Regions from separate parts of the Homo sapiens genome. Here region 2 is linked to region 1. Evidence: fine-mapped expression QTL. A gene starts in region 1. The other region holds a variant in brackets. All regions are shown on one strand. Distances are from middle to middle.

Evidence for each region. PIP is the estimated chance that this variant, and not a neighbour inherited with it, causes the effect.
Region 2: its variant is the best candidate, but not a certain one, in a credible set for the expression of PRICKLE3 in whole blood (TOPMed, PIP 0.90).

Annotation. Positions count from the first base shown.
Region 1 is chrX:49,183,578-49,188,941 of GRCh38, forward strand. PRICKLE3 (prickle planar cell polarity protein 3) reads right to left here and starts at 2,796. Exons shown (of 9, transcript NM_006150.5): 1 at 2,679-2,796; 2 at 1,048-1,133; 3 at 157-340. The coding sequence starts at 2,720. It overlaps SYP (synaptophysin), which reads right to left. Exons shown (of 7, transcript NM_003179.3): 7 at 4,238-5,364. RefSeq lists cis regulatory regions at 695-1,195, 2,555-3,095 and silencers at 804-1,017, 2,789-2,918.
Region 2 is chrX:49,110,217-49,115,580 of GRCh38, forward strand. GPKOW (G-patch domain and KOW motifs) reads right to left here. Exons shown (of 11, transcript NM_015698.6): 10 at 3,637-3,722; 11 at 3,191-3,539. The coding sequence ends at 3,405. Among named protein-coding and RNA genes, the nearest start is that of GPKOW, 11 kb to the right of the region's middle. The variant A/G (reference allele first, on the strand shown) is at 3,128.

The DNA.
Region 1 (5,364 bases):
ACTCTTCCATCACAGAGGGGCCAGAAGGACCCTCGGTCTGACTGCACACTCTAGCGTAGCCCCAGAAATAGGTTCCCACCTGAGTGTGTGTGTGTGTGTGTGAGCATTAGTGTGCACCCACTGGACAGCAAGAGTGGAGGGCTGGCCTCTGGTCACCTGCTCCGGCTTAAGGCCTGGGGGCACCCAGGCATACTCCTCCGATGCACAGCCTGAGTCGTCGTCGGAGATGGAGTGGCGCTGGAAGTCCGAGATTAGCCGACACATGATGCGTTCCAGGTCCACAGGCACCGCGTGCACTGCATGCTCCTCCCGCGGGCATTTGCAATGCTGGCAGATCTTTCTGAGGGGGCCGGGATGGGGGTCAATTACTAAGGAGTTGCCCACCCGAACCCCTCGGCAGCCCAGGTCCAATGGAGGAGCGGGGACATACAGATTATCACCACCAAAGGTCTGTGAGCAGGGACAGGGATCTGGGCCTGGGGGCAGGGCTGCAGGAGGTGGGCCTATGAGCCAGGGTGTGGCTGGGCTGTGAGCCAGAGGACAGGTCGTGGGGAGTGGGATGCTTTGTGGGGGAACTTTCACTAGACACAGGCATCTAACCTGTGGTGAGGCTCTGAACTTGTGGGCTCTGAGCCTGTGGGTAGGGCCTGAGTCTGGGGGCTGTAGGCTCTGTTTATTGGGTGCAGGGCTCCAGCAGGAGGATAGGACGCTGGGCCTGGGAGAGTAGGTCTGAGTCTAAGAGGGGTGCTGGAGGCCAGAGGGCGGCGCTCAGAGTTAGAGACGAAGAATCTCCCTAGGGATGCGACTCCGCGGCTACGGGAGAACACTTCTGGGGGCGGGGCTGCGTAGTGGGTGGAGCTCTCCTGGGAAAGGACTTTGGGGAATGAGTCAGGGGGCGGGGCTCTGAATCTGAGCCTGAGGCTCTTTTCCCAACTGAGATCCCTCTGTAGGCGGAGCTCAAGCGTAGGGGCGTGGCGTAAGGCTCCTGGATTTCCCCCCGAAGGCGGAGCTCTGACAAAGGCGAGGCCCTTTAGGGGCGCCACTTACCTCCAGCCGTGGAGCAGGAAGCCAGGGCACTGCTCCCTACAGGAGTTGCAGGGCTGGCCCCGGTCTGGGTCCTCTGCCTCTGGAGGCTGCAGTGGGCGGGGGCAGATGCAGGGCCGGGTGAGGCGCGGAAGCAGGGAAGGAGAAGTCAACGCCCGCCCCTCCACTTCATTGCCCGCGACCGCACGCTGGGGCCTGTCTTACCTGGGCAGCGCTGGGCAGGCTGGGACAGCGCCCAGAGTGCGGGGGAGCGGGACACAACCGAGGCAGAGGCGGGGCAGTTGGAGCCACCTCCTTATATGTCCCCTTTTCAGGGAATTCCCCTTCCTAGGCTGGCCTCGGACCCCCCTCCCCGTCCGCCCCTAGCCTCAGACACCTCCCACCAGCCTTAGATCCTTCCAGGGCTCAAGCACCTCCCCTATAATTCATTGTACTCTCCCCACTAGAGCACAGAACCCCTACTCTGGGCATCCTCTCCCCGGCCTCATCCCGGTTCCCTCTCCATCTACGCCGCCAGCAGCACTCCAGTTCCACAGGGTAGGAGACGAGACCGCATTCTTCCTTGAGATCCCCACGTGAACCCTGCCCCTCTCTTCAGAAGCTCAGGAGCTCCTCCCCTAAACCCTGGCCTCATGCCCTGATACCCAAGGAACTGGGGACCCTCCCCAGGATCTCAGGAGGCCCCTGCTCCATTCAGAAACCCCCATCCCAAGAAACCTTGGCCTTTACCCATCCCATCCTAGGGCTATTTATTCCTTCTCCGGACCATCAAACCCAGACCCCACATTCCCAGGTCAGAGACCCACTCCAAAGGAAGTGAAAGAACCTCCTATCTAAGAAGTCAAAAACTCCCTTGCTCAGGCGGAACCCTGGAAGCCTTGTCCCCCCAAATCCCAGTCTCTTGACTCTCAGCATTTCGGCATCCCAGGAGTGTAGGACTCCATCCCTCCGTGCACATTCCTCCAAGGTACTGTGTCCTTTAGAAGCTGAGGAGGTCGGCCAGGCTCGGTGGCTCACGCCTATAATCCCAGCACTTTGGGAGGCCGAGGTGGGCGGATCACCTGAGGTCAGGAGTTCGAGACCAGCCTGGCCAACATGGTGAAACCTTGTCTCTACTAAAAATACAAAAATTAGGCGGGCGCGGTGGCGGGCGTCTGTAATCCCAGGTACATGGGAGGCTGAAGCAGGAGAATCGCTTGAACCCAGGAGGCGGAGGTTGCAGTGAGCGGAGATAGCGCCACTGCACTCCAGCCTGGGTGACAGAGATTCAGTCTCAAAAAAAAAAAAAAAAAAAAAAAGCAGCAGCTCAGGAGGTTCCTGCTCAACCTAAGGCTTCAAGACCCAGTTCTCTGGCCCTCAGGATTCCCTCCCACAATTCATAAGAGAGGGGTCCCCACCAGGTCCCAGGAGTGCTGATGAAAGTGTGTGGAGAGGTGATTAGGGGGTTTGGGCCACCAGATCTACACCTTCCTCCATCCATTCGCCTCCAGCAGCCCCAGCCCCAGGTCTGGGAATGCAGGGGATGGGATTCCCAGATCCTCTGTGGGGCACCTATTCGCTATGCCTATCCATTGCCCCCTTGCCTGGGCCTCAGTTTACCCCCGACCCCCACCGCTGCCCTGACTCCCGCTCACCGCACGCCCGGAGCGGCGCCTCCGGGACCCACGCGCGAACATGGCGCGCCCGGGCAGGGTCAAGCCGGGCCGGGTCAGGCGAATGTAATCCTTGCGACCGTCAGGCCACCGCGCGTCCGGCCTGGGAACTCGGTTCCGTAAACCTGACACCCTCGTGGGAGGAGCGCGCCCCGCAGGGCCCGCCCCCGGGCATGTGGTCTCTCCGCTGCCAGGGCGCCCCCTGCCTAGAGGTGAACTGCACGTAGCCCGGAGTGCCCCGCGGGAAAGGCCTCTGCCCTCCCGCTCCGGGCCGGTGCGGGGCGTCACAAGGCACGACCCCCAGAATCCCGGCGTGCCACGTGGCCTCTCACGGGACCTGGGGCTTGAAGGTTCTGTAGTGGAGGATGGGGAGACTCAGAGGTGGCCAACTGGACTGAGAGGGGTGGCGCGCTAGGGTGCTTGTGTTGACGTTTTGTGTCGATTTATTTCGGATGCTTATTTGGGAGAGGGGTTAAAGACACCTCTTGGCTCCTCCCCACTGGTGAGGTTCCGAGGGTCTCCCCGATGAATGCTGCAACAATGGGCCCCAACCTCACCCGCAGCCCCAGCTGGTGCTCGCTGGGAACCTGGGAACCTGGCCCTAGCCACCAGAGAGCTAGATCTTATACGCACTCCTCCCTTCTCATTCCCCTCTCAGCGAGGCCAGGTTCCAAAGCCCTCGTCCCCTCTCTCCCCTCATCCTTATAAGCCTAGCTGTCCAGCCCCGTCCCCCCACCCCAAGTCTTGAGAAGTAGATCTTAAAGCCTTCCCTCCCCCACCCACATTTTTCTCTCTCCAGTTATCCCCTTCCCCAGCTCAGTTCCAGGGCGGGGAGCCTCTCCTTCACGCTCTCAGGCTTGGCTGTGCCTCCGGGCTGGGGGGAGGGGGTCCCATGGCCTCAGTCAGAACTCGGCCCGGGTCTCTATGCACGGAGACTGCAGCGGCCAGGCCCTTCATCGCGGGCCCCGGGGACCTCTCCCCGCCCCCCATTACACATGTCCCTGTCACTTCCCGTGGAGTGGAGAGGTAAAAGAGAATAACTAATGAACTAAGGAGTCACCCCGGCGCCCCACCTCCCCTCCTTGCCTAACCTGTCTCCCATTTCTCCAGCCTGGGCGGAGGCAGGGAAAGGAGAGACAGTAGGGTCTGAAGATTAGGGATGGGGTCAGGCAATGTGAGGTTTCCTCCTATTCGGACCCCTTGGGGATTTGAGGAGAGGGTTCCACAGGGGCTCGGAAGAGGCTTGGCTAAGGGACCAGAATTAGAACCAACTCCTAGAAAGACCGGGCATTTGGTGGCCAGTAGTGGGAGGGTGAGCAGGGCTACTCAGAGAGTGACAGAGTGATTGGCAGGAGAGGCTTCCCAGAGGATGCTGCTCTGCCTAACACTTTTGAAGGGGCCTGAAATGGTGCAGCAAGCTGAACTGCGGTCGGTGGGTCCGGGTGGAGCTTGTTCTCACCACCTCTCCCTCCTTTCTCCCCCGGCCAACCTCCTCCCCGGCGCCCGAAAAAGACACACTGAGAAATCAGAGCCGGGTAGACTAGGTGGTTAAGGAGTTTATTTGGGAGAGGAGAATCATATTTGTTCTTCCTTGGGGAGGGGGGTTCTTTGAACAATACCGAAGGGTTTGGGAAAGGGTAGGGGTCTGGAGGGGAGAAGGAGGGGCCACAGCCAGACAAAATGGCAACACACGATCACAGGCACTACTGACATCACAGACATAGCAGAGGGTGCAGGATAGGGGCTCCAGACCAGGCCTCCAACCACCCCAGGACGGGTGGAGGTGTGGAGGGAGGGAGGGCGCAGGGGAAGGGGGAAGAGGGGTGGGCCAGTCCCACAGACCCGTTGGTTCTGTCCTCCTATTAACCTAGCTGTTTCATCACGGGAGTGGGGAAGGGTGTGTGTGGTGGGGTGCTTCTCTCTGGATCCCACGCCTCACCCTACAAGCCATATCACTCGACTCTTCTCAGGCCACTTCCGTCCCAAGTCGTAGCCAGAGCCATTCTCCCCCACCCCTAACAAAACCCATCTGGAAGCTCCTATCCAAGTCCCCTCTCCACTGCCCAAACCCAGCCATTGTAAAACATTTTCTTCACTGCACCATGGGGAGGGGCTGCCCTTTCTGAAACCACCATGGAAGCCCCATTCTAAGCCCCACCCTGTCTGGAACCCTGGCTTGGCCCATTCCTGAATCCCACTTCTTGCCTTGCTCAAGATCTGTCCCCTTTAGAATCAAGCTCAGTCTCCCAAATGTTCCAAGCCACACCCTTTCCATAGGCTCTGGTACCAATCCAAGACCCACCTACTCTGGAGCCCACCATTCTGCCTCGCTTAAAGCCTCGCCCCTTCTAGAACCCTGCCCTCAGCGCCCTTCCAAGCCCCACCCCAGAATGCTCTAGCGCACTCCTCTCCTTCAGACTCCAGATCCACTCTGTCTGGAACCCAACCCCCCTGCTGACCCCTCCACTCCACACCTCCTCTCCAAGACCACCTTGGGTCCTAAACTGTCCTCTCTACCCCAAGCCCCCCCAATCTCTGCCTTTCTTTAACCCTGGAGTTGGATTTCCCTAACGGCCTTTGTTCAGGCAGGCATTGCTGGAGGAACCAAGGCCAGAGTTGGGAGGAGTGGAGGGAGAGAGAGGAGAGAGTCTGAAGTCACGCCCACCCT
Region 2 (5,364 bases), 73 kb before region 1:
CAGAGTGAGACCCTGTCTCCAAAAAAAAAAAAAAAAAAAAGGAAGCCTTGCTGGGCATCTAATGGGAAAATCTGTGTTCCCAACAATGGAAATCAGCTAGATTGACCAAAGCACCAGAGGAACAAATGTATTTAGAGTGGTTCTGTGTGCACATGGTGGGGGGTGTATGGCAAGTGGGGAGTTGTCAACTGGCAGTCTTTAGCAGTGGCTATATGGAGGCTTCTCATGATTTCCACTTCAGTCAGAACAAAAGCCATAGTAGTTCCAGTGGACTGACCTTACAGCACTACAGGATCTCCCTGACCTGACCTCCTACCACCTTCTCCCTCACTTACTCCCCTGCAGCCACACCAGCCTCCCGGCTGTTCCTCACACATGCTAGCAACAGTGCTACCACAGGGCCTTTGCACTTCATTTCCCCTGTCTAGACCGCTTTCCCCAGATAGCTGCATGACCATCCCTTACTTCCTTAATACCGTTGCTTAATGTCACCTTCTCTCTAAGGCTTTCTGTGGCCATCCTATTAATACTGCCCCTTTCCCCCATGGTTCTCAGCTTCTTATAACATCTTCCATCACTTACTTCTGCTTATTGCTCACTGTCTCAGCCCCAGTGGAGTGTCAGCCCCACAAGGGCAAGGATGTTTGTTTTGTTTGTAGCTCCATACTCGGTACCCAGGATGCTGCCTGGCATATAGTAGGGTCTTGATATTAAGTGATTTACTCCATACGGTTCCCCTAGCATGCAGGATGGTACCTGGCATTCAGTAGGAGCTCAAGAGATGTTTGTTGAATGAATTGGTGTGATAGGGGACTTGGTGAGGACCCGCCCCCACTTAGATAGCTTTAGAAGCTGTTGGATACTTCATCCCTCTGCGTGGTGCTGCAGACATGGAGATGAAGAGGTGGCCTCAGTGTGGGAGTAGAGGGGAGCATTCCCTTGACTGAGGAAGGAATGTTAGAAAAGAGAGCTGAGGCTGGGCATGGTGGCTCATGTCTGTAAACCCAGCACTTTGGGAGGCCGAGGTGGGCAGATCACGAGGTCAGGAGTTTGAGATCAGCCTGACCAACACTGTGAAACCCCGTCTCTACTAAAAATACAAAAATTAGCCGGGCATGGTGGCATGCGCCTGTAATCCCAGCTACTAAGGAGGCTGAGGCAGGAGAATCACTTGAAACTGGGAGGTGGAGGTTGCAGTGAGCCAAGATCACGCCACTGCATTCCAGCCTGGGCGACAGAGCAAGACTCCATCTCAAAAAAAAAAAAAAAAAAAAAAAAAAAAGAGCTGAGGCCAGGAGTGGTGGCTCATGCCTATAATCCCAGCACTTTGGAAGGCCAAGATGGGAAGATCACTTGAGCCCAGGAGTTCAAGACCAGCCTGAGCAATATAGTGAGACCTTGTCTCTCTTATATTTAAAATAAAAAATTATTTAAAAAAAATTTTTTAAAAGAAGAGCTGACCTGTCCATATCTGCCACTGAACACAGCCCAGACAGCAACCCACAGCACCTCAATAATTGACTCCTCTCTGAAAGGCAAAGAAACTGCTTCCTGAGTCTGCTGCTACAAATTCAAGGCTTGGCATCTGGACAATTTTTAACAGAAGCAGACCCCTGCCAGGGAAACTTCTGGGGGCTTGGCAGAAGAGGCAGATGCCTTTTAATCTACCTCTTGCTCAATCCCTGTGATGTGAAAAAAGCCAGTCTGGACAAATTGTACAGGTCACAGTCCCCAGCTTGTGAGGGGCCTGTAGAGAATTCTCGGGCTCACAGAAGCCGTTGCTGCAGTAACCACTGCCGCAAGAGCAACTTTGGCAGCAGGCAGGTGCCAGGCAGCAAGCTGAGAGAACACTGCACAGATTCAAAGTGTCTTCAGATACAAGGCTTTGTTTGTGCACAGTGAACAAAGGGCATATTGGGAAGGCCTCCTTATATTGTCCACACTTCCCTGAATGTAAGGAGCCCTGTCCTCAAAATGGGGATCAGCAGGGCTCCTTTCAAGGTAAAGCAGAAAAAGTCCCAGTGGCCTGTCAAGGGAGACCAGGCGCTTTGGCTGGAGCTAGGTGTTCTGGACAAAGGGCCATATTCAAGAACTTTGGGCCCCATTTTCAAGCGTAGGCTTAGGAGAAAGATGAATTCCAGGAAATCTGAAGCTGATGAGATATCTGCTTTAGCATTGTGGCACGGGGAGGAGATGGAGGGTGTCTGAAATGGCCAGGTTATGTTGTGTTACAGGCAGAGACAGAGCCCCAGTGCCATTCCCTGGGGAGCTTTAGCCCTTCTCAAAGGTGCTACCAAGGCTGGTTTATTATGATTGGAGAAAGGAGGAGGCCTCCTTGACAGAGTGAAGTGCATAAAGCATAGGAAATGGACTACTGGACATGAGAAGTTGGGAACATCCTCCCTACGATTAACAAAATACAAGCCAGAGACCAGGCACGGTGGCTCATTCCAGTGCCTATAATCCCAGCACTTTGGGAGGCTGAGACGGGAAGATCGCTTGAGCCCAGGAGATCAATGCTGCTGTGAGCTATGATTGCACCACTGCACTCCAGTCTGGGCAACAGAGGAAGACCCCAGGCTCAGCATATTCTCTGGGGTCCTGCTCTAAACTGAGAGTGAAAGCATACTCTGCTGCTAGTTGCTAGAGTTCTTGCTCAGAAAGTTGTTCAGAGATACAGTATTTCAGATTCCACAGCATCTAAAGATTTTTTTTTTTTTTTTTGAGACAGAGTCTAACTCTGTCCCCTGGGCTGGAGTGCAGTGGCGCAATCTGGGCTCACAGCAACCTCTGCCTCCTGGGTTCAAGCGATTCTCTTGCCTCAGCCTCCTGAGTAGCTAGGATTATAGGCGTGCACCACCATACCTCGGTAATTTTTTGTATTTTTATACTTTTAGTAGAGACAGGGTTTCACCTTGTTGGCCAGGCTGATCTTGAACTCCTGGGCTCAAGCGATCCATCCACCTCAGCCTCCTAAAGTGCTAGGATTACAGGCATGCACCACTGTGCCCAAGCTTATAGTATCTATATTCCAAGAGTGAGCTCACAATCAAATGAGTCCTTTAACTTGTCCTGTACCCTGAGCAGAAAAGCAAGGCTGAAAAGTGAAATGGTTCCCACCTCAGTC[A/G]ACTCAGTTCCCACCTTAACTCGCAGCTCATCATACCACTTATGATTTCATCTTTCTATTAAGTACTTGAAATGGTTTTTATTATACCCTAAATTTTGGTAAATATTGGGTTTGTTTCTAGCTTCCCTACTGGTTCACCCATCCCTTTCCCTTGTCCTTGTCCCAGGACTGCACCAGAAGTAGAGGATGGAACAATGATCTTCCCACCTTCTGAAGGCAACTTTCTCATATGGTACAGAACTGGTACCAGCCTGGGGGATGGGAGGAGTCCCATGGGTCAGTCATCATCTGTGTCACTAGGGCCCATGTACTGGCAGATGGCATCGTAGTGAAGCTCCACCACCTGATTTTCTCTTGGCAGTTGCACCAAAGCCCGGCTCCGTGCTCTGTCCCGGCTCAGCAAATGTCCCACCTGGAACAGAGGTGAAGTGGAATCAGCAAGGCAAGCCTAGACCCTGGGACAGGCCCTGAACGACCCACAAACCTCTACTGCCAGGTCTGAGACTCACCCTTCCAGTCTGTGGGCCCAGCACCACCATCACACGGTCACCCTCTGCCTTGGGAACCAGGGTCTCCAGCATGTCTTCCCTCAGGCCTATGGATAAGGGAGAGGGGAGTGAGGCCCACAGCAAGGACCAGCCCAACCAGCGTCCTGTCAGAAGGGCCTTTCCTGGCCAGGCGTGGTGGCTCACACCTGTAGTCCCAGCACTTTGGGAGGCTAAGTTGGGAGGATCGCTTGAGCCCAGGAGTTCGAGACCAACCTGGGCAAGATGGTCAGACCTCATCTCTACAGATTTTTTTGTTTTGTTTTTTGAGACTGAGTTTGGCTCTTGTTGCCCAGGCTGGAGTGCAATGGTGTGGTCTTGGCTCACTGCAACCTCCGCCTCCTGGGTTCAAACGATTCTCCTGCCTCAGCCTCCTGAGTAGCTGGGATTACAGGCACCCACTACTGCGTTTGGCTAATTTTGTATTTTTAGTAGAGATGGGGTTTTGACATGTTGGTCAGGCTGGTCTCAAACTCCTGACCTCAGGTGATCCACCCTCCTCGGTCTCCCAAAGTGCTGGGATTACAGGCATGAGCCACCGCGCCCAGCCTACAAAAAATTTTAAAATTAGCCAGGCATGGTGGTCAGTGCCTGCAGTCCCAGCTACTCAGGAGGCTGAGGTGAGAGGATGGCTTGAAACCAGGAATTTGAGGTGGCAGTGATCCATGATGGTGCCACTGCACTCCAGCATAGGTGATAAAATGAGACCCAATCTCAAAAAAAAAAAAAGAAAAAAAAAAAAAAGAAGGGCCTTTCAGCTGGGTGTGGTGGCTCATGCCTGTAATCCCAGCACTTTGGGAGGCTGAGGCAGGAGGATCACGAGGTAAGGGGTTCAAGACCAGCTTGGCCAATATGGTGAAAACCTGTCTCTATTAAAAATACCAAAATTAGCTGGGTGTGGTAGCGGGCACCTGTAGTTCCAGCTACTCAGGAGGCTGAGGCAGAAGAATAGCTTGAACCCGGGAGGCGGAGGTTGCAGTGAGCCAAGATTGCGTCACTGCACTCCAGCCTGGGTGACAGAGTGACTCTGTTTCAAAAAAAAAAAAAAAAAAAAAAAAAAAAAAAAGAAGGGCCTTTCCTGTATTCCCTGGAGCCACTCTACACCCTGTTGACAGATGGGAGTCCCGCCACATCCATTTCACAGATGAGGTAGCCTAAGGAGTAGTTTACAAAAATCACTGTAATAAAGGGTGGTGGTGATAACAACAGGCACCTTTTATTGTGGGCATGTTTTAACCCCTGCCCTGCACTGAGAGCTCAATACACATTCCTTCACTAAGGCACCAATCACAAGAGGAAGAAATAGTAAATTCCATGCTAATTTGACAGACCGGAGGCCGAGCGCGGTGGCTCACGCTTGTAATCCCAGCACTTTGGGAGGCCGAGGTGGGAGGATCACTTAAGGTCAGGAGTTCCAAGACCAGCATGGTCAACATGGTGAAACCCTGTCTCTACTAAAAACACAAAAATTAGCCAGGTGTGGTGACGCTTGCCTGTAATCCCAGCTACTCGGGAGGCTGAGGCAGGAAAATCGCTTGAACCTGGGAAGTGGAGGTTGCAGTGAGCTGAGATCACGCCACTGCACTCCAGCCTGGGTGACAGAGTGAGACTCTGTCTCAAAAAAAAAAAAAAAGAAAAAAAAGAAAACTTGACAGACTGGGAGAGTGGGGCTCAAGATAACCAACCACCATC